Linked DNA regions of Homo sapiens. The protein of the gene in region 2 purifies or fractionates together with the protein of the main gene of each other region. This does not show direct contact. Each region holds a gene or a part of one and is shown on either strand. Other genes may lie near its edges.

What was found.
Region 1: the proteins of NRG1 (region 2) and TMEM39B purify together in Homo sapiens (affinity purification with mass spectrometry; 3 studies listed by BioGRID and IntAct, with this or other methods). This does not show direct contact.
Region 3: the proteins of NRG1 (region 2) and HS6ST1 purify together in Homo sapiens (affinity purification with mass spectrometry; 3 studies listed by BioGRID and IntAct, with this or other methods). This does not show direct contact.

What each region holds. Positions count from the first base shown.
Region 1 is NC_000001.11:32,075,923-32,082,947, reverse strand, and holds part of TMEM39B (transmembrane protein 39B), read right to left. Parts: intron 6,713-7,025; exon of another isoform or gene 6,694-6,712; intron 6,559-6,693; exon of another isoform or gene 6,308-6,558; coding exon of another isoform or gene 6,302-6,307; intron 6,186-6,301; coding exon 6,102-6,185; intron 5,785-6,101; coding exon 5,630-5,784; intron 1-5,629. UniProt on the Homo sapiens protein: May protect the cells against DNA damage caused by exposure to the cold-warming stress and facilitates tissue damage repair during the recovery phase.
Region 2 is NC_000008.11:32,543,670-32,551,318, reverse strand, and holds the start of NRG1 (pro-neuregulin-1, membrane-bound isoform isoform HRG-alpha proprotein), read right to left. Parts: upstream 3,009-7,649; 5' UTR 2,593-3,008; coding exon 2,493-2,592; intron 1-2,492. UniProt on the Homo sapiens protein: Direct ligand for ERBB3 and ERBB4 tyrosine kinase receptors. Concomitantly recruits ERBB1 and ERBB2 coreceptors, resulting in ligand-stimulated tyrosine phosphorylation and activation of the ERBB receptors.
Region 3 is NC_000002.12:128,315,860-128,323,307, reverse strand, and holds the start of HS6ST1 (heparan-sulfate 6-O-sulfotransferase 1), read left to right. Parts: upstream 1-4,439; 5' UTR 4,440-4,744; coding exon 4,745-5,271; intron 5,272-7,448. UniProt on the Homo sapiens protein: 6-O-sulfation enzyme which catalyzes the transfer of sulfate from 3'-phosphoadenosine 5'-phosphosulfate (PAPS) to position 6 of the N-sulfoglucosamine residue (GlcNS) of heparan sulfate.

The DNA.
Region 1 (7,025 bases), on a different chromosome or scaffold from region 2:
AAAAAACTAGCCAGGCGTGGTGGCGGGTGCCTGTAGTCCCAGCTACTCGGGAGGCTGAGGCTGGAGAATGGCGTGAACCCAGGAGGCAGAGCTTGCAGTGAGTTGAGATCGTGCCACTGCACTACAGCCTGGGCGACAGAGCGAGACTCCGTCTCAAAAAAAAACAAAAAACAAAAAACAAAAAAAGTTCCTGGCTGGGCTTGGTGGTTCATGCCTGTAATCCCAGCACTTTGGGAGGCCAAGATGAATGGATCACTTGAGGTTGGGAGTTCGAGACCAGCCTGGCAAACATGGCGAAACCCCATCTCTACTAAAAATACAAAAAATTAGCTGGGCGTGGTGGTGCACACCTGTAATCCCAGCTACTCGGGAGGTTGAGGCAGGAGAACTGCTTGAACCTGGGAGGCGGAGGTTGCAGTGAGCTGAGATTGTGACACTGCACTCCAGCCTGGGTGACAGAGAGAGACTCCATCTCAAAAAAAATAAAAATAAAAATAAATAAATAAAGAGGTCCAAGACTGTAACTCTGTAACTACAGAGAAGAAATGTCATGTATGCATACTACTGGGCCCTGGAGTGAATGATATTTTCATACACATAATTATATCAAAGCCACATACTGGTTTTTAATTTTCAGAATTAGGCTTAGACAAAGAATGGAAGGCTTAAATGTGGTTACATAGGAGAATGTGAATGTCAAGCTTGACGATATAAAAGTAAAAATACAGCTGCCAGGAAGTGAAAAGAGGAAGAGGGGAGGAAAAGTGGTTGGATAGGGTGCCTAATATTCTTGTCTTACATAAAAAGTATTCAAGATACTATTGTTGATGGAAAAAAAAAGTATAGGGATACTTATACTATTGATGAAAATAACCAACAGAAACTTAAAAATATTAAAAGCTATCAATTACTGGGAACAGTAAGGATGGGATCGTGAGCTAAATCATCTGTCATTGCAGGGAATCAATATACTTGCATATGTGTGTATGTGGTATGTTTGTATATGCGTAGAACATTTGTTTCCAGGATATACAAGAAACCAAAAACATTGATAATTACCTCTTGGAAAGGAAACTGGGTGGCTGGGAGGCAGCAGTCAAGGGGAGACTTTTTCATGGTATACTCTTTTAAACCTTCTGAATTTTAACTATGTAAACCTCTTATTCAATTCTAAAATAAATCAATAATTTTCTTTTTTTTGAGACAGAGTCTCACTCTATTGCCCAGGCTGGAGTGCAGTGGTGCAAACTCAGCTCGCTGCAACCTCCACCTCCCAGTTTCAAGCAATTCTCCTGCCTCAGCCTCCCAAGTAGCTGGGACTACAGGCGTGCACCACCACACCTGGCTAATTTTTGTATTTTTAGTAGAGAAAGGGTTTCACCATGATGGCCAGGCTGGTCTTGAACTCCTGACCTCAAGTGATCCATTCACCTTGGCCTTCCAAAGTGCTGGGATTACAAGCGTGAGCCACCACGCTTGGCCAATAAATAAATTTTTAAAAAGAATAAGCAGGCTAGGTACAGTGGCTGATGCCTGTAGTTCCAACTACTCAGAAGGCTGAAGTGGGAGGACGGCTTGAGCCTGGGAGGCAGAGGTTGCAGTGAGCCGAGATTGCACCACTGCACTCCAGCCTGGGCAACAGAGCCAGACCCTGACTCAGGGTCTTGTCACTCAGGCTGGAGTGCAGTGCCACTTTAGAACTGGATAATAGGTTTACAGACTCTGTCTGTAAACAAACAAACAAACAAACAAACAAATAAAAAAACCCAGAAAGTAAAAGAGACTGCTATTGAAGAGTGGGACTAAAAATCTGGAGGCGGGATTGGAGACTAATGTTTTTCTATGAAGAGTGGGACTAAAAATCTGGAGGCGGGATTGGAGACTAATGTTTTTCTATTTATTTATTTATTTATTTTTAGAGACAGGGTCTCACTCTGTTGTCCACGCTGAAGTGCACTGGTGTGATCATGGCTCACTTCGGCCTCAAATCCACCAGCTAAAGCAATCTTCTCACCTCAGCCTCCCAAGTCACTGAGATCACAGGCATGAGCTACCGTGCCCAGCAATGGTTTTCATTATAAGCTTTTCAGCACTATTGGATTTAATTTTTTACAATATGTTTATATTTGGTCAATAAACATTTTTAAATTAAATAATGAAAAATAAAGCATAATATGACATTGGGTGTTATCTGCATCCATGAAGAAAAGATTCACCAGGTAGTAACCATAAACTGTCAAATTAAGGCAACTCTTTTTTTTTTTTTTTTTTTTGAGACAGAGTCTCACTCTGTTGCCCAGGCTGGAGTGCAGTGGTGCAGTGGTGCGATCTTGGCTCACTGCAAGCTCCGCCTCCCAGGTTCACACCATTCTCCTGCCTCAGCCTCCCGAGTAGCTGGGACTGCAAGTGCCATCCACCATGCCCGGCTAGTTTTTTGTATTTTTTTAGTAGAGACGGGGTTTCACTGTGTTAGCCAGGATGGTCTCAATCTCCTGACCTCGTGATCCACCCGCCTCAGCCTCCCAAAGTGCTGGGATTACAGGCATGAGCCACCGCGTCCGACAGGCAACTCTTAAGTTCTAACCAGTGCAACCCTTTCGAAGGACAATTTGTTAATAACTATGAAAAATCTAAATGAATCCATCTTTTGGTGTAGTTAATTCTTCTGGGAATCTACTGTGCAGAGATACTGGACACATATGCAATTATTCATTGTTATGAATAAGGAAAAGCTAGAAACAACTTAAAAGTTTGCCAGTAGGCCAGGCACGGTGGCTCACGCCTGTAATCACAGCACTTTGGGAGACCAAGGTGGGCGGATCACGAGGTCAGGAGATCGAGACCATCCTGGCTAACACGGTGAAACCCCATCTCTACTAAGAATACAAAAAATTGCCGAGCATGGTGGCTCATGTCTGTAATCCCAGCACTTTGGGAGGCCAAGGCAGGCGGATCACCTGAGACCAGCCTGACCAACATGGAGAAACCCCATCTCTACTAGAAATACAAAATTAGCTGGGCTTGGTGGAGCATGCCTGTAGTCTCAGCTACTTGGGAGGCTGAGGCAGGAGAACTGCTTGAACCCGGGAGTTGGAGGCTGCAGTGAGCCAAGATTGCACCACTGCACTCCAGCCTGGGCAACAGAGCAAGACTCCATCTCAGAAAAAAAAAAAAATTGCCAATAGAAGACAAATAAATTGTGAAAATTCTATAACATAGAATACTGCGAGGCCATTAAAAAAATGAGGCAGCAGGTCATGATGGCGCATGCCCATAGTCCCAGCTACTCAGAAGGCTGAGGTGGGAGGATTGCTTGAGCCGAGGAATTCTATGCTATAATGTGCTATGCCGATGAGGTGCCTGCATAGAAGTTCAGCATCCATATGGTGAACTCCTGGGAGTGGGGGACCACATAATTGCCTAAGGAGGGGATGAACTGGTCCAGGTTAGAAATAGAACAGGTTGGCCAGGCGCGGTGGCTCATGCCTGTAATCCCAGCACTTTGGGAGGCCGAGGCGGGCAGATCATGAGGTCAGGAGATTGAGACCATCCTGGCTAACACGGTGAAACCCTGTCTCTACTAAAAATACAAAAAATTAGCTAGGTGTGGTGGCAGGCGCCTGTAGTCCCAGCTACTCAGGAGGCTGAGGCAGGAGAATGGTGTGAACCCGGGAGGTGGAGCTTGCAGTGAGCCAAGATTGTGCCACTGCACTCCAGCCTGGGCGACAGAGCGAGACTCCATCTCAAAAAAAAAAAAAAAAAGAAAGAAATAGAACAGGTTAAAACTCCTGTGTTGATCAGTAGTGGGAACAGACCTGTGAATAGCCACTGCACTCCAGCCTGGGCAATACAGCAAGACCCTCATCTCTAAAATAAAATAAAATAATGAGACAGACCCGTATGTATTGGCATAGAAAAATATCTGTTATATGATTAAGTGAAAAGTGTGGTAAATTGTACATCATGCATAGCATAATACCATTTTTCTTTTTTAAAAAACTGCATGTGGCCAGGCACAGTGGCTCACATCTGTAATCCCAGCACTTTGGGAGGACAAGGTGGGCAGATCACTTGAGGCCAGGAGTTCGAGACCAGCCTGGCCAACATGATGAAACCCCAACTCTACTAAAAATACAAAAAGTAGCCAGGCGTGGTGGTGGGCACCTGTAATCCCAGTTACTTGGGAGGCTGAGGCAGGAAAATTGCTTGAATCCAGGAGGCAGAGGTTGCAGTGAGCCGAGATCGTGCCACTGCACTCCAGCCCGGGTGACATCAGACTGTCTCAAGAACAAACAAACAAAAAAACTGCATGTGTGTGTACTTGCACAGAAAATATTTTGGGAAAATTGCTGCCAGTAATGGATTTCTGGGGGAATAAGACTATGTGGGACTTTCTTTTTCCATGTTAAAAGCTTCTGTAAAGTTTAATGTTTTTATAAGACATTATAATGTTTTTTTTTTTTAAAGACAGGACCTCACTCCAGTTGCTTAAGCTAGAGTACAGTGGCACAATTTCGGCTCACTGCAGCCTCGACCTCCTGAGCTCAGGTGATTCTCCCACCTCAGCTTCCTGAGTAGCTGGGACTATAGGCGTGCCTCACCACACCTGGCTAGTTTTTTATGTTTTTAGTAGACAGGATTTCGCCATGTTGCCTAGGCTGGTCTCAAACCCCTGGACTCAAGCAATCTGCCTGTCTTGGCCTCCAAAGTGCTGGGATTACAGGTTTGTGCTACTGTGCCTGGCCACATGTCACTCTTATAATTAAAAAGTAGATATAACTGAAGGAAGTGTGACAGGGCTCCCATGCCAGTGCCTTTTTGGACATGCAGGGTAGAAAGGGGGAGGTGCCAGCTCTGAAGCTTCCCAGAGACCAGGATTGACCCAGCTTGAGGAATTTTGTGAACCAGAAAACCTGGGGGTTGGGAAACGACTGTTAATGCTCAGGCAGCCAGCAGCCTGCCCCAGAAGCAGCCAGATCCAACACCTCACCAAAGTTCTCCCTGATGCAAGGCGAGAAATGGGCAGTCCTGGGCACATCCCCGAAACAGTCTCTCCATCCTCAACAATCTAGGGTCTGGTGAGACGGAGAAAGAGAGCAAAAACAGGCACAAAGGCATACACACATGCATATGCAGGCACACACACATGCTTCATGCATAGACACCCACACGCTTCATGCATAGACACCCACACAGAGACATGCAACCATGCAGCTGTTTGCTGGCACACAGACTCAGGGAGATACCAAGAGATTACACAAACACTGAGATACACAAAGAGAGACACAGAGAAAGGGAAAGAACCAGAGGGAGGGGAAAGGAAGAGCGAGGGAGACAAAGCCCATACATTCCCTCTTGGGAATGTTCCTTTGGGATATATATGCAGATCTGAGTCCCATTCTGACCTCCCCCATAGTGAGAGCTGGGTAAATTATGCCACCTCAGTTTCGTCTGCAAAAAAAGGCTAATTATCCTGACCTCAGTGAGTGAGTGTCATCTGACAATGTGAGAGGATGTTGCTGCCTGCCTCCGATCTTCCAGATATGGAGGCCTGGTGAGCCAGCTACGGTCAGGGCAGAGGTCAGGGGCCAGGTGCTGGGCAGTGAGGGGTGAAGTGAGGGGTACTCACGGATAGCAGAGGAACAGGAGGTTCAGGAAGGAGTAGGTCCTGAAGAGGTGGATGAGGGATCGGCACAGACTCCAGCCTGTTGCCGTGAGAACGGTGAAGCGAGTGAGGAACAGCAGGATGGAGCGAAAGAGGGAGACCTTCCCCCTCTGAGAGGCCTGGGTCGGGGCAAGATAGGACGGGATGGGGCCTTGGATGGAGGCCGAAGGGGCTGTGCCCAAATCCCACCCAGCATGACCTGTGATCCCACCCAGGGAGAGGTGGCACAGCAGGCTGGGCAGAACCTGGCAAGGTAAATCCTTCTCTTTGATGCCCAGTAAACTCCAAGATGGGATGTAACTAATGTTCTTCAACCAAGTCCAAAGGGAGCCCCAAGGAAATACCCTAAGGCTGAAGGGCTGGGCATGTTTCCTTGGCATCCCCAGGGGAAAAGGGGAATCCCAAAGTCCCTGGCCAGCCTCTAGGACCCAATCACCTCCTTCACGATGGACCCAATGAAGCGGCGGCCCAGAACGATGGTGGTCACCATCAGCAAGTTGAAGTCGATCAGATGGAAGTTCTGTCAGGGGGCAGAGGCCTGGGGGTCATGTGGGCCCCTTGCCCATATGCAGGCTTTTTTCATACCCACCTCCCGCTGCCCATTTCTTTCCACAGAGACTGTCCTCATTCTCTGACCTTCATCGGCCTCCAGCTGAGTCAGGCCAGGAAATTACCTACAGGAGTAGGACAGGACCCCGAGAAGGGAAGTGGGACAGTCCCTGGGGATAAGAGAGTGGTATGTGAGCCCTCTTGCTCTGCTCACACATGCCCCTGTCCCTATACTGTGTCTGCACTGAAGTCTTTCCTCCCCTTGAAGCACTCATGTATCCCTGTGGTTCATCTCCACTACTGGATTAAGACTCTCAGCTCCTGGCCGGGCGCGGTGGCTCACGCCTGTAATCCCAGCACTTTGGGAGGCTGAGGCGAGTGGATCATTTGAGGTCAGGAGTTCGAGACTAGCCTGACCAACATGGTGAAACCCTGTCTCCACTAAAAATACAAAATTAGCCGGACATGGCGGCACACACCTGTAATCCCAGCTACTCGGGAGACTGAGGCAGGAGAATCGCTTGAAACTGGAAGGCGGAGGTTGCAGTGAGCTAAGATTGCGCCATTCCACTCCAGCCTGGGCAACAACAGCGAAACTCCGTCTCAAAAAAAAAAAAAAAAAAAAAAAAAGAAGAAAAGAAAAGAAAAGGACTCTGAGCTCCTTTAGGCAAAATCTTTGTCAGATTCATCTCCCATACACTTACAGTGCCCAATGTGCTACTAAACACACTAGGAGTATTCAGTGAATCATCAGTTTCCTGTTCCTTCAGCACCTTCCATGTTCAGCATGGAGCCAAGTGCACAGTGGTGC
Region 2 (7,649 bases):
CTGACAGGCACTAAGATGGGAGCAATACAAGAGAAACTTGTCCTCCTAAGTCCTAATTTGGGCTGGCACGGCAAGTGTGAATACTAGAGTTATGGCATCTATAGGTCGTTCCTTTGGGAATGCCTGAAACCTAGAGTGTGGGTTTTTCTCACAAACCATTATAGTCATCAGGTATGAATTCTCCTAAGACAAGGAAAACTACACTGGCACTTACCATTATAAGGAAAATGACAAAGAAGGAAAGAAACACTGATTCTGAAGCATTGTATTTAATGCCATGTGCTTCTATATAAAGCTGGTTTCAAGTTGTTGACCATTCTTTCTGAATCAAATAAAGAATACATATTCTTATCTGGTTTAAAAAGCACAAGATGCTTCGAAGGGGGTAAAAAGTCCCTCCCCAAAAAAGATTATAATCTGGTGGAAAACAGAGACAAATATACTAAAAACTAACCTACAGCCAAATTCACCCCAATTTTTCAGGGAAGACAGTTAAGCAAATGTCACTTAAAGATACTGACTTAGCTGGTTTACAGGGAATCACTGCTGTACCACTGGAAAGCAGATGAGAGCCACCAAGGAAGCTCTGGTGCTCTGTGTCAAGAGAGCGTAGCTAATCACAAGACAGCTGCCTACCTAGTAGATGAGATCTGGAGGGCACAGAAATGCCTGCCCCTCCCCCACTGAACTTGTCAAGTTGCTGTGTTACGGTACTGCTGCTGGGAGCCCTTGACAAAATGCACACCTATTACCTGAACAGGATGCTACTTCAGACCGCTGGCCCCTTCTTAATTCATTAGACCATCTACAGAGGACCACAGAAACTTCTTCTGAAGCCAATGAGCAGGGAGACAGGAGAACACAACCACAAACAGTGATAAGAGCCCCCAAAATAACTCTTTACAACGATTTGAGCTAGGTCTGAAATCTCCGTAATGTACTATGATGACCTTAGAAAGGACAGTAGACAAAGTCACGCAGGGAGGTAACTAATCCAGCTCCCCAATTTCCTATCTTGTTGAATAAAGTGCTATGGTCTCTCCCCAAAATATAGGGTAAAAATAAGGGAAAATTCAATACACCCTCATGAGGGGCAATGATCAGTAATTGAAGTGAATATGATCAGCAGGATCTTATTAAAGAAGCAAGCACAAGAATGGCCAGTGGTGAAACAATTACTCTCTGTTCAATTTCTGTTTTGCTCAAAACTCTGCTGAAGGTCTCTGCCAATAACCCAGGTTCTGAAATGCTATCAGTGATACCAGTAAGAAGACCAAGCAAATGTGGTTTGTTTTCTTCCAGCAAGGGACAAATACTTCTACAGTATTACTGTAGCCACAGTATTATCAAGTACTAGTGAATTAATTCTGCAGAAGTGCTTCATGAAATGTGTGTTGGGGGTACGCTCGAAGCGACTTAAGGCATCTGGATCAATTAATAATTGGGAATTGCAGAGGCAAAAAATAAATTCTCCCCCATCTCCTTCCTCCCCTCTTTTATCAGCTACCTACCAATCACTCATAAACAAGTATTTATTCGACATGCCTCTTTTGTCCAAGGTAATGTCCAAAGCATCAGCGCTTCCTAGGGACATCTAAGGTAAAGCTTTTGTTCATGCTCGTGTTCTGATGATGAAATACAAGATTTGTTTCTAGAAAGCTTCAATTGCCATTTTATTATATAGATAACCAGCAAACAATTGGGTTCAAAAATTCAGATAAACGGTTGTTTTCTTACATCTCTTGGGAAAGTAAATTATCCATATTTATCACAGAGGTCTTGAAAAATAGAACTGTTAAGCCAAAAGTTTGTAGAACTTGTTTGGGGCAGAGCTGATTCCTGACACTGGACTAGATTTCATCTGCTTCGCTGACCTTTAGGAATCCCTGCCGCTGCTCTTGAGTCTCCGTAGCACAGGACTGAATCAAGATGAACCGGCGCGCACTCTACATCGCTTGCCCTGTGCCCCAAAACGCCGAAGCTAACTTCCCACGCGGCCTCTTGCTCGACCACCCACTTCTGCGCTGCCAGGCACACCGAGGGGACCGGCTCTCCCTCCAGGCGGCCCATTCCAGCGTTTCCCGCTAGAGGGCACACGGCCCCCGTGCAAAGCGCTTATGGCGCGGGGCACGCGCGCACGCAGCCTCGACTCCTATAGCCCAGGTCCCACTCCCGGGCTGGGCTCAGCCGCTAAGGCGCTGGGGAGGGGCCGTGCCAGGGAGCGAAGCGCTCCCGGGACTCTGGGAGGGTGCGGCCGGGACTGCTGTCCCTTGCCCTGAGCTCTGGGCGTAGGCGCCCGGTAGGACTCGGCGCCCAGGTGAGCGGCGGCCCCCAGGAGGGGAAGCACCGCGCGACTCAACGGGCGCTCAGAGCGCAGGGCGAAGAGGACGGGCGAGGGAGAGGGGGAGGGAGAGGCCACGGCATCCGAGGAGGAGGAGGAGTAGGAGGAGCAGGAGGAGGATCGTGGGGCCCGGGCCGCGCTGCGCACCCACCTGGGCTCTGGCTGCCCGCCGCGGACTCCGGCTTCTTGCCGGAGCCTCGCTCCTTCTTCTTGCCCTTCCCTTTGCCTCTGCCTTCTTTGCGCTCGGACATCTCGCCGGAGACGGAGCGCTCTACGCGGACGGCTCTCGGCGCAGGCGAGTTTGGTCCAAGGGCTCGGATCGGGTTTGGGAAAAGTTTGTCCCTCGAGGGGGAGAGCGAGCGGCCGCGCTGAGGCGCTCGCGCTGCGCGGGGGCGTCTCCCGTTGCCTGCAGGGAGCGCGGCGCGGACGCGGCGGGCGGTCCGGCCACCTGGAACGGGCGCTCGCCCTGGCTCTCGGGGCTGCTCCTGTCGCCCCGGGAAGTCGTCGATGGGTCCCACCGCTGGCGGCTCGCGTCCTGGCCTCTGCCCGGCGCCCTCGCAACCCGATCGGGGAGAGGTTATCACCGTCCTGCTCACGCTCCCATCGTCCGGCAGCCGCCGCCGCTCAGCTCCTGGCCTCCGCGCGAGCCCGGAGTTCCAACAAGTTTCGGGGAACTCCTCGCCGGCTCTTTTTCAATTGCCCCGCAGCCACCCACCTCCCGCCCGCAGGTTGGAGGCAGGCGCCTCCTTCGCACCCTCCCCTGGCCTCGCCCCCTCCCTCTTCCCCACCACACCCCCACCCCGAGGCGCGGACACGCCACCGGGAGGAGCCTGGGCTCGGCGCTCCCGGGCGCAGCCCCTTTTCCTCCCGCGCTGGCCGGGCGGGGGGTGGCGGCGCGGCTGCCGGGAACCCCCGACAGGGGTCGCTGGACGCTGCGCGGAGACCGAGGCCAGCGCCCCGGAGACCCGGGAACCCAGGCGGAGACCCGAGGCTCTCGCTGCCCGCTCCCCTCCGCAGCCAGGCAGCGCCTGGGAGGGCTGCTCCGTCCCATTCCACGCGGAAAAGGACGGCGCAGAGAAAAGTTTGCGACTCCCACACCTGTGCCCCAAGCAGAGTCTCCGTGGTCAGGAACCCTGGGAGGGGTGCGGGGGGAACGTTGGTGGCTTTCCCAGAAGAGTTCGGGGTTCATTCCTTAACTCACTTAAGTACAAAAGCCCTGTCGCACGCAGGCGAAAATAAACTCTAGGTGGAAGGGAGTTTAAGATAAGGCTTCCTTCCAGGTGCACAGGAAGGGCTAAGCGAACCTTAAAGATGCTAGGTTGCGCTCTCCTGCTGGGTCTGCGCCGTGTGCGTGTGTGTGTGTGTGTGTGTGTGTGTGTGTGTGTGTTTAGTAAGTGCCTGTTAGAAATCTTCAGCTTTTCCTTAAAAAATAACCTGGCCTCTTCTAAGGGGGTGCCCTTAAACTACGTCTCTTACTACAACTTAATTTTCAGAGGAACTGATAAAAAACATAGTTCGGAGCACGACTCAGAATAATTAAAATTACTGCAGCCGCTGAAAGTCACTCAGTTCTGCCGAGTGGAAAAGCAGGCAGGGAGGGGTAGAATAAAGACACAGAACTGGAGATCCTTAATTCGTGAATGTGGGGTTTCTCAGATTCAAACTTTACTCAGAACTGCGCGTGAAACCTACTCCTTCCCTTGTCCTCCCTCTGGTGGAGAATTCTAAAGAGCAAGGAAATAAGAAGGCATTGACCCCTCCCCTGCAAAGGACAAAAGTTAAAGACCAGGGTAACGGGCACCACGGAAGGATCCAGAATTGTCTACATGTAGAGAAAACATTCTCAGAGTTATACCACAGCTGTGGTTAACTTAGACTCTTAATTTACAGTGAAATACTCTTGTGTTGTGGTCGGGAAGTGGTGAGTTGGAACAATCCATATTCAAAATCTATTGCTTCACTTTAAAAGTGACTTGCTCTTGGTTTTCCATTTTCTGGGGTCAATGCTAACTGAACCATTACCTACACACTACCTTCTCACGGTATTTTCTGATGGCCGCAATTTAAATAAAAGTGCAGTCTGGAGTGTCTCCTTGATATGTAGATGGGAAGGGAGGGAGGGAAATATGTTCACTTTAAAACTGTCCTAAAATCACACTAATTTTATTCTAGTTTAATTTGCACTGTCATAAGAACGAAACTCTGTTGAATGGGTTTAACTGTGGAAAGATATCCTAGCAGTCTTGCCATCATTATTTATAGTTTAAAAGTTTGATGTCCAAGTAGCTTCTGATAGCCTTCCTACAAACACCAAATATAAATTTCACTGGGCTATAAAGACAGCAAAAGCAGAGAAAAGATGATGAATATATCTCAGTAGCACTATTAATATTCCACAGAGACGTATGCAAGATGGAGTCTGAACACTGGCTGAAATAACTCTGTTTTCCCAGGAGGGGGCCACTGCTCAGTAAGCAGGAAATAGCAAAATTCAGAGAAGTCCTTTCAAAACAGATATTTTGTCCCAAGGATGTGAGACAGCATAAGGGCTTAGTATACACTACCACATATTCTCTAACATGGCATTATGTTAGAATTGAAGGACTGAAAGCAAAGATGTATTCTGGGATTCTTTTTTAAAAAATAAGATTTTCCCCAATTAAAAAAAAGAAGCTCAAAATCCATTTCTATGGAAATGTTGTAATTCTGCTACTTTTGTTTAGGGTCTGGATGTTTTGCTTCAACAAAACAGCTTACTGGTCATTTTTAGAGTAATTTTTCAGTGAGATAGGGGAAGAGCCTACGATTTTGTGATACATTTTCATTTGAATGAACCTGAAGAGGTAGTTGACAGTCTTCCAAAATTAAGCATACATGACTACAAAAGAGATTACAGATACTATGGTGGCTTTAAGATAAAACGTAAAAGCAGGATTCCTACAGGAATTTTAGGGCTGAGGAATGAATGAATATGAAGGGAGGGAGGTGAGTATAAATGAGCATTTAATAATTGTTTTTCCTTGGTTTGATGTGATGGAGGGGAAAAGACAGGACAAAAATTGCAATGATAAATATTGAAGGGACTTTAAGGAAAGATGATGAAATGGCAATTGCATGACAACAATCCTTTCTGGAACCATATCCAGATTCTCGAGTTACATTTTAGTTATCACTTGTAGCTGAATTCTCAGGAAATTCAAGGCTCAGTCCAAAAAGGTTTTTTTCTAAAAATCGTTAGGTCTTTATGTTATTTAATGTTAATTTTAAGGGGTTTTATTACATTATTTATGGCCAGCTAAAAGATTAACCAAATAAATGTCCATTTCTTGGACAGTTAAAACATTTATGAGATTTATCAAGAATTTGATATTGTCCTTAAATTATTCATCTCTGTGGTCAGGAGTAGCAAATGAATTTCTTTTGCATTTGTAAAAAACCTTGGAACTGACCAGAACAAGGGATGGAGAAAAGAGGAAGAATATTTTTGCTTTAAAAAAAAAACCCAATTGTATAATTTAGAAATGATGACATATCTTAATGGTTTAATTTTATTAATTTGTGTATTGTTCAGGTCTTAGATCATGTATTATATAGGGTATATCAGCTCCCAGGTAAATTGTCAACATAACTCCTGATAAAAAGAGTACAGATTTTAAAAAATAAACACCTTGGGCATTAAAGAAATGCAAAATTTAGATCTCACATTAAATGACAGCGTAAGAGAAACGCAATCGTGTGCCACTACATTTTTCCTTGGCTAGACTTAACTTTTAGAAGGACTCTTAGAATCTACAAAGCTGGCTGAATATATCCTCTCAGTAAATCCCATTTGGGAAATACTCCAAGAAAAGTTTTAAAACATGGAAAAATTAAAGAAGACTAACAAGACAAATTGCATTTTTGGCAAAATATTATGCATGTTGACAGTAATGGGACTTTAGAATTCTGCAAATAGTCACTTTTAACTTTTTTAAATCAAGTAACTTAAGATAATGTAAACAAAGATTACTTTTTTAAAAACTGCAACAAAGTTGACATTAATGAAGATGCATGAATGCAAAGAAAATCTCACTCAGCAGAGTCAACTTCAAAACAACCACTAAATGTATATGATTCATTCATTCACCAAGCATTTACTGAACTAAGTGATAGACAGGCCGGGCATGGTGGCTCATGCCTGTAATTCTTACACTTTCAGAGGCTGAGATGAGTGGATTGCTTGAGCCCAGGAGTTCAAGACCAGCCTGGGCAACATGAGGAAATCCTGTCTCTACAAAAAAAAAAAAAAAAAAAAAAAAGATACAAAAATTAGCCAGGTGTAGTGGTGCTCCCCTGTAGTCCCAGCTACTGGGAGGTTGAGGTGGGAGGATCACCTGAGCCCTGGGAGGTTGAGGCTGCAGTAAGCCATAAATGTGCCACTGCACTCCAGCCTGGGTGACAGTGAGACCCTGTCTCATAACAATAAATAAATAAATAAATAAATAAATAAATAAATAAATAAATAATAAGCTAGGCAGTAGAGAAACAAATAAAATACTGTCTCTGATCTCATGAACCTAAAATATTGTGAGAAAGGCATAAAAACAAATTAAATATGACAATACAATATGAAAAACAAGGCCAGATGAGTTTTCTGGAAATGAAGCTCATAAAATTTGGGGGATCTTTTAAAAGAAAAATACTGCAAAATTAAACTTACAAATTTAGGTAATAAGAAATTAAATAGGCTCTTGCAAGTCAGAGTCCCTGAAGAGTAAGCTTCCTTAGCTTATGGTAAATTCACTTTTAGTGATTCCAAGCATATTCCAACATCTGCACCATAATTACAGCAATGGTACTTGACAATTGTATACTATTTTGGAGATTAAATAATACTGTTACATAATATCACTATAAATAGGAGACATTAACAAGCAATCAAAAGGAATACACACAAAACTGAGATAAGCAAAGACCATCCTATGAGGGAGGAAATTGAGGTGAAAGGAGGCTTAATAATTCACAGATTTGCGATTGTCCTGTGTGTTCAGTTAGACTCTTAGCATCAACATGCATGTTGAGTTTATTAGGCAAAGCACTTCTGACCAGCAAGACACTCTGGCAAAACTAGAAGTGGTACCCTCCATTTGGCAAATATTTAATAGAATTACTAATTAGTCATTGTCTGCTGTAAAGACAGTTTTATGATAAAATTATGAGCTTAGAATTCAAAGAAAAATGCTAAAAGGCAATGTTCAAACAACATTAAAATCAAATCTATGTTTATGTTTTTCTGCTTGTGTGACTTTTAAAAATTACTACATACTAA
Region 3 (7,448 bases), on a different chromosome or scaffold from region 2:
TAGGCAGCTGGGGTGGGAGCAGCAAGCACCCCATGGTTGAGTGACTTTTCTCGGACTAGAACATTTCACCCTCAAAAGAGCCGCCATCCACCCCACCCCACCCCCAGGGAACATCCCCAACAGTGGAGCTTGTCAAGCTGCTCAGTGCCCTCTCTGGTGGCTCCCCCGACCCGGCCGAGTCGGAACCCCTCTGGGCAGTGAATGACAGCCATCTGGGAGGAGACCCACTGGCCACCGGAAGCTGCGAGCAGTCACCCCCCACCCCATCCAGGCTGTGATCCCGCCTCCACCCTAGTCGTCTAAAGACATGTCCCTTGGGAAGTTTCAAGCAGAAGAACCAGGACGATGCCCTTGGGGCAACGTTACCAGGTCCCTGTCCTGCCTCCCAAGCTGGCAGAACCCGCCAGGCCTGCCCACAGTCCCGCTGCCCGGGGAGGAGGGTGGGCTCCACTGGACAGACTCCGAATCCCGGCCAGGCAGCAGTCCAAGCCCCCCACTTGCCAACAACCCCACGTCACACGCGAGGGCAGGGGGCCAGCCAGGGGGAGGTCACCGAGCCAGCAGGGCGGGGGGGGCGGGCAAGGGCCGGGGAAGCCCAGGACCACGCTGCCCCTACGAATTGCTCAGGTTCTCCTCTTCTGTTTATCCTACCCTCTTCCCCTAAGGACTGAAGCGGGCCTGGAGGGCCTAGAGAAAGGGCACAAAGAACAGCGAGGCCCTGGGCGGGCGTGGAGGGAGGGGAATGGCCCTTCCGAAGCCCCGGGCCTCTTCCAGCGCGGTCCTCGAACCGAACCGCAGGACCCCTGCTGTCCCCGGGCAGCGGCCGGAGCGCGTCCCTCGGGTCCTGGGAAGACCTGCCGCGTCTGCGGGCTGCCTGGGAGCCCAGGCGCCCCGCGGTGCTGGGGGAGGAGCCCGGCACGGGGCCGCTGGGCGGCAAAGGGGCCGCGGGCTCCCTGGAGGAGGCGGCTGCGGACGGGGCCTGGCGACCTCGGAGAAGGTGGCGTCCACGGCGCGCAGCCCGGCGCCCCAAGCCTGCCGCCGGGTCGGGGTCGGGGCCGGGGCCGGGCCCCGCGGGTCCGCGCGAGCCGGAGTCCCCTCTAAAAGTTTGTCCCCAAACGAAACCCCTCTCTCTGCCCCGCGTGGGCAGCGGGGCCAGCCCCACGGGAGGCTCTGAGGACAGACACGACTGCCCTCCTCCACCCCTTGGCAAACAACAATGGGCGGCCGCCGGACGAACGACGAGGGAAGCGAGTGTGGAAAATCCCCCAATTTTTTGCAAAGTCAACCGCGGGCGCTCGGGGGCCGGGCCGCGTGCTGCCCCCGCGCGGCCGTCCGCGGGACTGTGCGCCGGGAGGGGGCGCCGCTGTTGATCTCGTGGTTCTCAGACTCTGAGACCGCACGGTGGGCCGGGAATGAGGCTTCATTCCTGAAGCCGAATGTTAATGCCTCTTCTGGGATCATCACAGCCTGCCACTAAGCCGTGTTCTTTTACTTTTCTTTGCCATTAAGTCAGAGATCACGCATTAAAGAATTGGTGAAGTGGATCTTCAGGGGACAAAGCCACTGAGCAGAAGAGCTGCCAGTGCTTTTCCTTGGACCCCACAAGCAGTCAGGGCCAGAAGCTGCCCCTAGCAAACACTTAGCTCATATGCACTCTCGGGGCTGGGGCAAACCTTGGCCACGCAGGAGATCACCCAGGGAAGAAAGGAAACAGCGCGCAGAGCGCGCCTCCTGAGACCCTGGCTGTGTCCGCTGACCTCCTGGAACCCCACGCCAGCCCCAGACTGTGCGTTTCTATCCATTTTCCAAGACATGACACTGAGGACTCATCGCGGGGAGTAGCGGGAAGTGGTGGGGAGTAGCGTGATGCAAGCTGCCCCGCCAACGAGGGCTCGAGCTGCCTTCCACTCGGCTCAAGTGTCCACTGATTGATGGGTGGCTCATCTGACTTGACTTTCAGAGCCCAGAAACTCACCTACAGCCTTAGGGTCTCAGGTGCCTGTGCAGGGCTTCAATCAAAGTGGAAGACTGAGCAAAGTCCTGTAGCCAGCCAGGCAGATTTCCCTCCTCTTAAAAGAATTCTAGAAAGAAAGGGCTTCCTGGCTAATGTGAGTGCTTCCCATCAGCCAGTGTGGCAGGTATGAAGTTGGATTAAATAGCTTGTTCTGGGAGATGTTGCTCCATGGGTCAGGCTGCTCTGGCTCCCATTCAAGGGTGGGACCTTATCACAGGCACTTCGTCCCTGCCTGGGCCTCAGTTTCCCCCTTGGGACAGTGAGATCATCACAGGGTGGAGCCATGGCCCAAGTACCGATGGCTTCGTTGGCCTTCGGAGCTGCTCCAGCTTTCCCTTGAACACTCTGGGCCCACGTTCCCCCTTGGTGGCAGTGACGGTCACCAGGCTCTCAGGAGTGGCCCCTGTAGACGCTCTCATCCCTGGCCTAGGGAGCTGGGGCAAGTGCAGAGGTGGGGAAGGGGAGGGTTCTGGGGCTCACAGCAGGAATCAGGATCCCAGCTCTGCTGACTCTCATGGGGTGAGAGTGGTTGACCTTGGAACCAGGGTCTTAACCCCTTTGAACCTCAGTTTTCTCTTCTGTAAATGGATATCACAGCCTACCCCCGCAGATTTGCTGATGGAATTGGAAATGACACCTCTACAATGCCTGGCACCCAGCAGGTCTCCAAAAGAGCAGCCTTAATTATGATGTAGCACGAGGATCCTTATCTGGGTAAGGACATCTGGGGGGTGGACCCGGGGCAGCTGTGCTCCCCTAGGCCACACAGGAAGGCTCCCCAGGGCTCAGGCACAGACTGCGTCAAGGGGCTGCAGGCAGGTCCAAGCACACTGCAGGGCGGCCCCACCTGTGTCCCATGGGGACTGCACCCCCACTCCTATAGGAATGAGTCACTTCTGGAGAAGCTTGTCCAAGCTGCCCCCAGGACCCTCGGGCCAGGGACAGTTTTAAAGCAGCCTACAAGATGAGCAGGGGCTTTGGGGCCCTAGGTCCCACTGAGGACCCCACACCATGGACTCCAGGGTGCGCTGGGCTGTGTTGAGGGTTCTGCACCCGCCTGTCCACAGCGGATATTCTTGCGGTCCCTTTGGAAAATGCATGCCGCCCGCTCAGCTGGGTTTGGGGTGTTGGTTTTTCCAGCTCTCTGGGTTTGCTTCCAGGAGGGCTTTCTGGTGTGATGTTGTCTACGTTTAACAGCTTTACTGAGGCATAATTGACACCCCATGATCGCTTCCGGTCCCTAACAGAACGGAAGGCAGGGCACCACCCCGCCTCCCCCCCCACCCCGTCCCCGGCAGGGCTTGACGTGGACACTGGGAGCCCACGCCTGGCAGCCAGACTCGCTCCCAGAGCCCTCGCTGGCCTGAACCAACACACTAGGGCCCACCGCGGCCGGCCCTGCAGCTGTGAGATCCTGGCAGGTCCCAGCCCCACTCCTGCGCTTCCGACGGGCTGCAGCCTCCGAGTACTGCCAGAGCCCAAGCAGTGTGAGTGGGCACCTGGCGGGACCCCCCGCCCCACGAATGCCGCGCGTGCTTGCCAGGCTGGGCGGCGGCGAGTGAGGAGCCCGCACCACCCGGCCCACACACGAGCCAACGTGGAGCGAGCCCTCCGCAGCCAGGTTGGGCCCGGGCCGCTGGACTCTCCAACCAACCCACGAAAGACAGAATATTTGGTGGGCACTCACGATTCTTAAGAATTGGCTCAATGTTTTATAACTCTTTCATTGGAGTATAATAAACATGGATGGGGGAAAATGCACCTCGTCTGATATTCTTTTCAAACAAGGAGGAAGCCATAAAGCCGCTCCGCAGGCCTCTGCAGACAGCCCAACATCTCTTCAATGCGGGGCTGCGGGGCACTGTCCCAAAGCCAGCCGCAGGGGTGAGGGGGTCGAGCAGGAAAGGAAAGCCTCGCTTTCCCTCTCGGTCCTGGTGGTGGGCGGCCCCCGCCGCCCTGGTCCCTGGAAGTGCAGCCCAGTAGGCTAGCGTCTAACTTCAGCGCCCCAGCGTGCAAGGTCAAGGCCTTTCCTCCCGCGCGGGCTGCGGGGACGTGGGCGGCTGGGACTTGGGGAGGAGGGGGTACGGACCCAGGCTCCAGAAGCGCCAGCCGCCGCGCCCCCTCACCGCGGCCCCCGCCAGGAGAGCCTCCCACGCCTCGGCTCCGCACTGCCGGTTGGTCCCCCACTCCCCTGAGGGCGGAATCACTTCCCAGTCGCTGGCTGCCCGCCTGCTAGCGGCCTCGCCACCGCAGCAGACCCAGGTCCCGCGCCCAGCACCCGCGGCGAACCCCGGCACTCCGGAGGCGGGGCCGAGGATCGGCGCGGGCGGCGACGGCAAGAGACGCCACGGGGGCGGGCCAGGGGCGGACCGGGGCGGGGCGGCGGCGGCGGACTGCGGAGACGCGGCGGCGCGCGGGGCGGCGCAGAGCGTTCTCGGCGCGGAGTGGAGCGGAGCGGGCTGGTGCTGGGGGCGCGGAGAGCGCTGTGCTGGCCGGGGCCGGGAGCGGGGCCGAGCGGGAGCGGAGTCGGGCGTCGGGCCCGGGGAGCCGGGGCCGGGCGGGGAGCAGCCATGGCACCGCGGAGGGTCGGGGCCCGCGCCGCTGCGGGCGGCCTGGGCGCCGAGTAGCCGGGCCGGGCCGGAGCGCGGGCGGCGGCGGAGGCAGCTGCGCCCGCGCCTCCTGCCCTCCCAGGCCCCGCGCCCCGCGCCCGGGCCCCGGCGATGGTGACACATGCGGCGGCGGCGCGCCGGCGGCAGGACCATGGTTGAGCGCGCCAGCAAGTTCGTGCTGGTGGTGGCGGGCTCGGTGTGCTTCATGCTCATCTTGTACCAGTACGCGGGCCCAGGACTGAGCCTGGGCGCGCCCGGCGGCCGCGCGCCGCCCGACGACCTGGACCTGTTCCCCACACCCGACCCCCACTACGAGAAGAAGTACTACTTCCCGGTCCGCGAGCTGGAGCGCTCGCTGCGCTTCGACATGAAGGGCGACGACGTGATCGTCTTCCTGCACATCCAGAAGACGGGCGGCACCACCTTCGGCCGCCACCTCGTGCAGAACGTACGCCTCGAGGTGCCGTGCGACTGCCGGCCCGGCCAGAAGAAGTGCACCTGCTACCGGCCCAACCGCCGCGAGACTTGGCTCTTCTCCCGCTTCTCCACCGGCTGGAGCTGCGGGCTGCACGCCGACTGGACCGAGCTCACCAACTGCGTGCCCGGCGTGCTGGACCGCCGCGACTCCGCCGCGCTGCGCACGCCCAGGTGAGCGCCCGGGCGGCGGGATCCTCGCGCAGCTGCGCCCCCGAGGCCGGGCCGTATGCCCGCCGTGCTGTACTGGGTCGGCCCTGCCTTCCCTACCCCCTTCTGCCCTCTTGGGGGCCCCCACTCGCCGGCACCCCTCCCGACCTGCCGAGCGCCCGAGGCTCCCAGCTCCTCTGGGTGAGCCGGCTGTCACCGCGCTTTCTGACCTCGCTCTCACTCTCTTCCTTGCCTTGTGCTGCCCTACTGCCGGCTTGACTGCGCAGCGCCCGGGTTTTCTCCAGGGTCCCCGCCCGCTGCCCTCGGGCCACCTTACCTGCTGTGCGCCGTGAGGTCTGGCCCGCCGGACTTGGGGACGCGGGCTTCTGGGTGTGTGCGTGGCCTACCTGGAGTGTTGGCTTCCCCGTGCCGCTTCGGTGCTGTGGTCCCAAAAGTGGAAGTGAGAGTAGTGAGGTGCCGCCCCTGTGCCTGGAGTGCCTGCCTTCAGAGGGTGGGGGAGCTGCCAGGGAAGGGGGCTGGCTCTGCCCGCCTGCCTGCCGGTGTGTGCAGGTAGAACAAAGGCCCTGTTGACCTGGGGCTGGGGGCGGGGAGGAGGCAGTACCGCCTGTCCTCCCAGTGGGGCCTGCCAGCCGAATTCTTCCAGGCACAGGCTTGCCTGGAGAGAGGAACAAAAGCCACCCGATGGGGGACCACCTTCCCCAGGAAGCTACCAGCCAGGTTGGGGGTAGTTGAGCTGGTCCAGGGAACCTGTGCTGCCACACCCCTTCTCTGGGGTCCCCCAGCCCCATGTCAGAGCTGAGCTGCGTGAGGACACAGAGCATGGGAGGGGTGCCGGGGCAGCTCTTCTGGGAAGCCGTTTGTAGGGGAACCTGGGGTGCTGCTGGGTTTCCAGCAGTTAAAGTTGGGGTTATTTTCCTCCTGTTCCTGTTGGTGCCCATTCGTCCTGCAGGGATGCCCTGCGGGGCCTTTCTCCCCAAAGTCTGGGCTGGGAAGGGCCAGGAGCAGGGCTTCTTGTCTGCCTTTTGTTTCTCTTCCAAATTTGCCTTAGGACTGAATTTGCAGACAGGCTGGTGGTAGGAGGCTGGGCGGTTGTAGGCGTGTTGGCTGGCACTCTTGGGTCCAGAGGCTGTAGGCTCTCAGGTGTGCCTGGGGAGCCTGGAAGGTCCAGCCAGCCTGGAGCTGAGCAGAGTCCGAGACACTGCTCCCCTGCACAGACCTCAATCCTTGCTCTGTGGTCTTTCTCAGGCTGTCAGGAAATTGGGGTCCTAGAGTTGGAGGGGCATCTTCCCACTTTTCTTTCTCCCCCCTCCCCCAACTGTACACACACACACCCACACACACACACACACTGCAGCTCCCAGCCTGGGAGGTGATGTTCTGAGCCTCTTACAGCCACATTCTACACTTGGCGGTCACAGAGCTGCCTGTCTAGGGCCCCTGAAGGATTGCTTCCGGCCCAGCACTTAGTCTGCTCTGCACAGATGCACGTTCCTGCTGCAGGGCCCCCCTAACCCTGGTCCAGCTTCTCTGTGCTAGGCTCAGCTGTGCCTGGGACCACAGCCATGCCCCCACCCACCCTTCCACCAGTCAGAGCAGTAGGCTCCCAGAGTTGGTCACTGACCAATACCAACAGACGCCTCCCTACCTGTGGGGGGTGCAAGGATGGGGGTCACCCCCTTTGCCAGAGGGACTTAGCTCGGCAGCCTAAGAGGATTGCGTGGAAGCTTCGGGCCGCCAAGAAGCCGGAGCTTTTGAAACAAGCCTGCTCAGCAGAGGCCACCTCAGCCCTAGATTGCAACCAGGATGCTCTTCCTGCAGCCCCGCACGCCTGTGGGTCCCCAGGGTGAAGAGCCTTGGCCTCCTTTCTCTGGAGTTTGTCCATGAGAGTGGGAGGACCAGGTGGGGCCGATGGGGCCCCAGGTGCTACACCAGGAAGGCCCGGCTCCCCCTGCCCAGGGAGCATGTGTGGAGCAAGAATGGAAAACGCAGATGCCTCTGGCGGAGGTGGGCTGCCAGCCTGGAAATTGCTAGCTCAGCAGCATGCGCCAGGGTTGGGAGGGGCTTCCAGGGCCGTCAGGAGGCCCCCTCTGCCACCCACTCTGGAAGTGGGTTGTGCTACCGGGCAGGTGACAGCACCCCACCCTCCGAGTCCCTCTTCTCCGCCTCCACTCCCTTCAGTT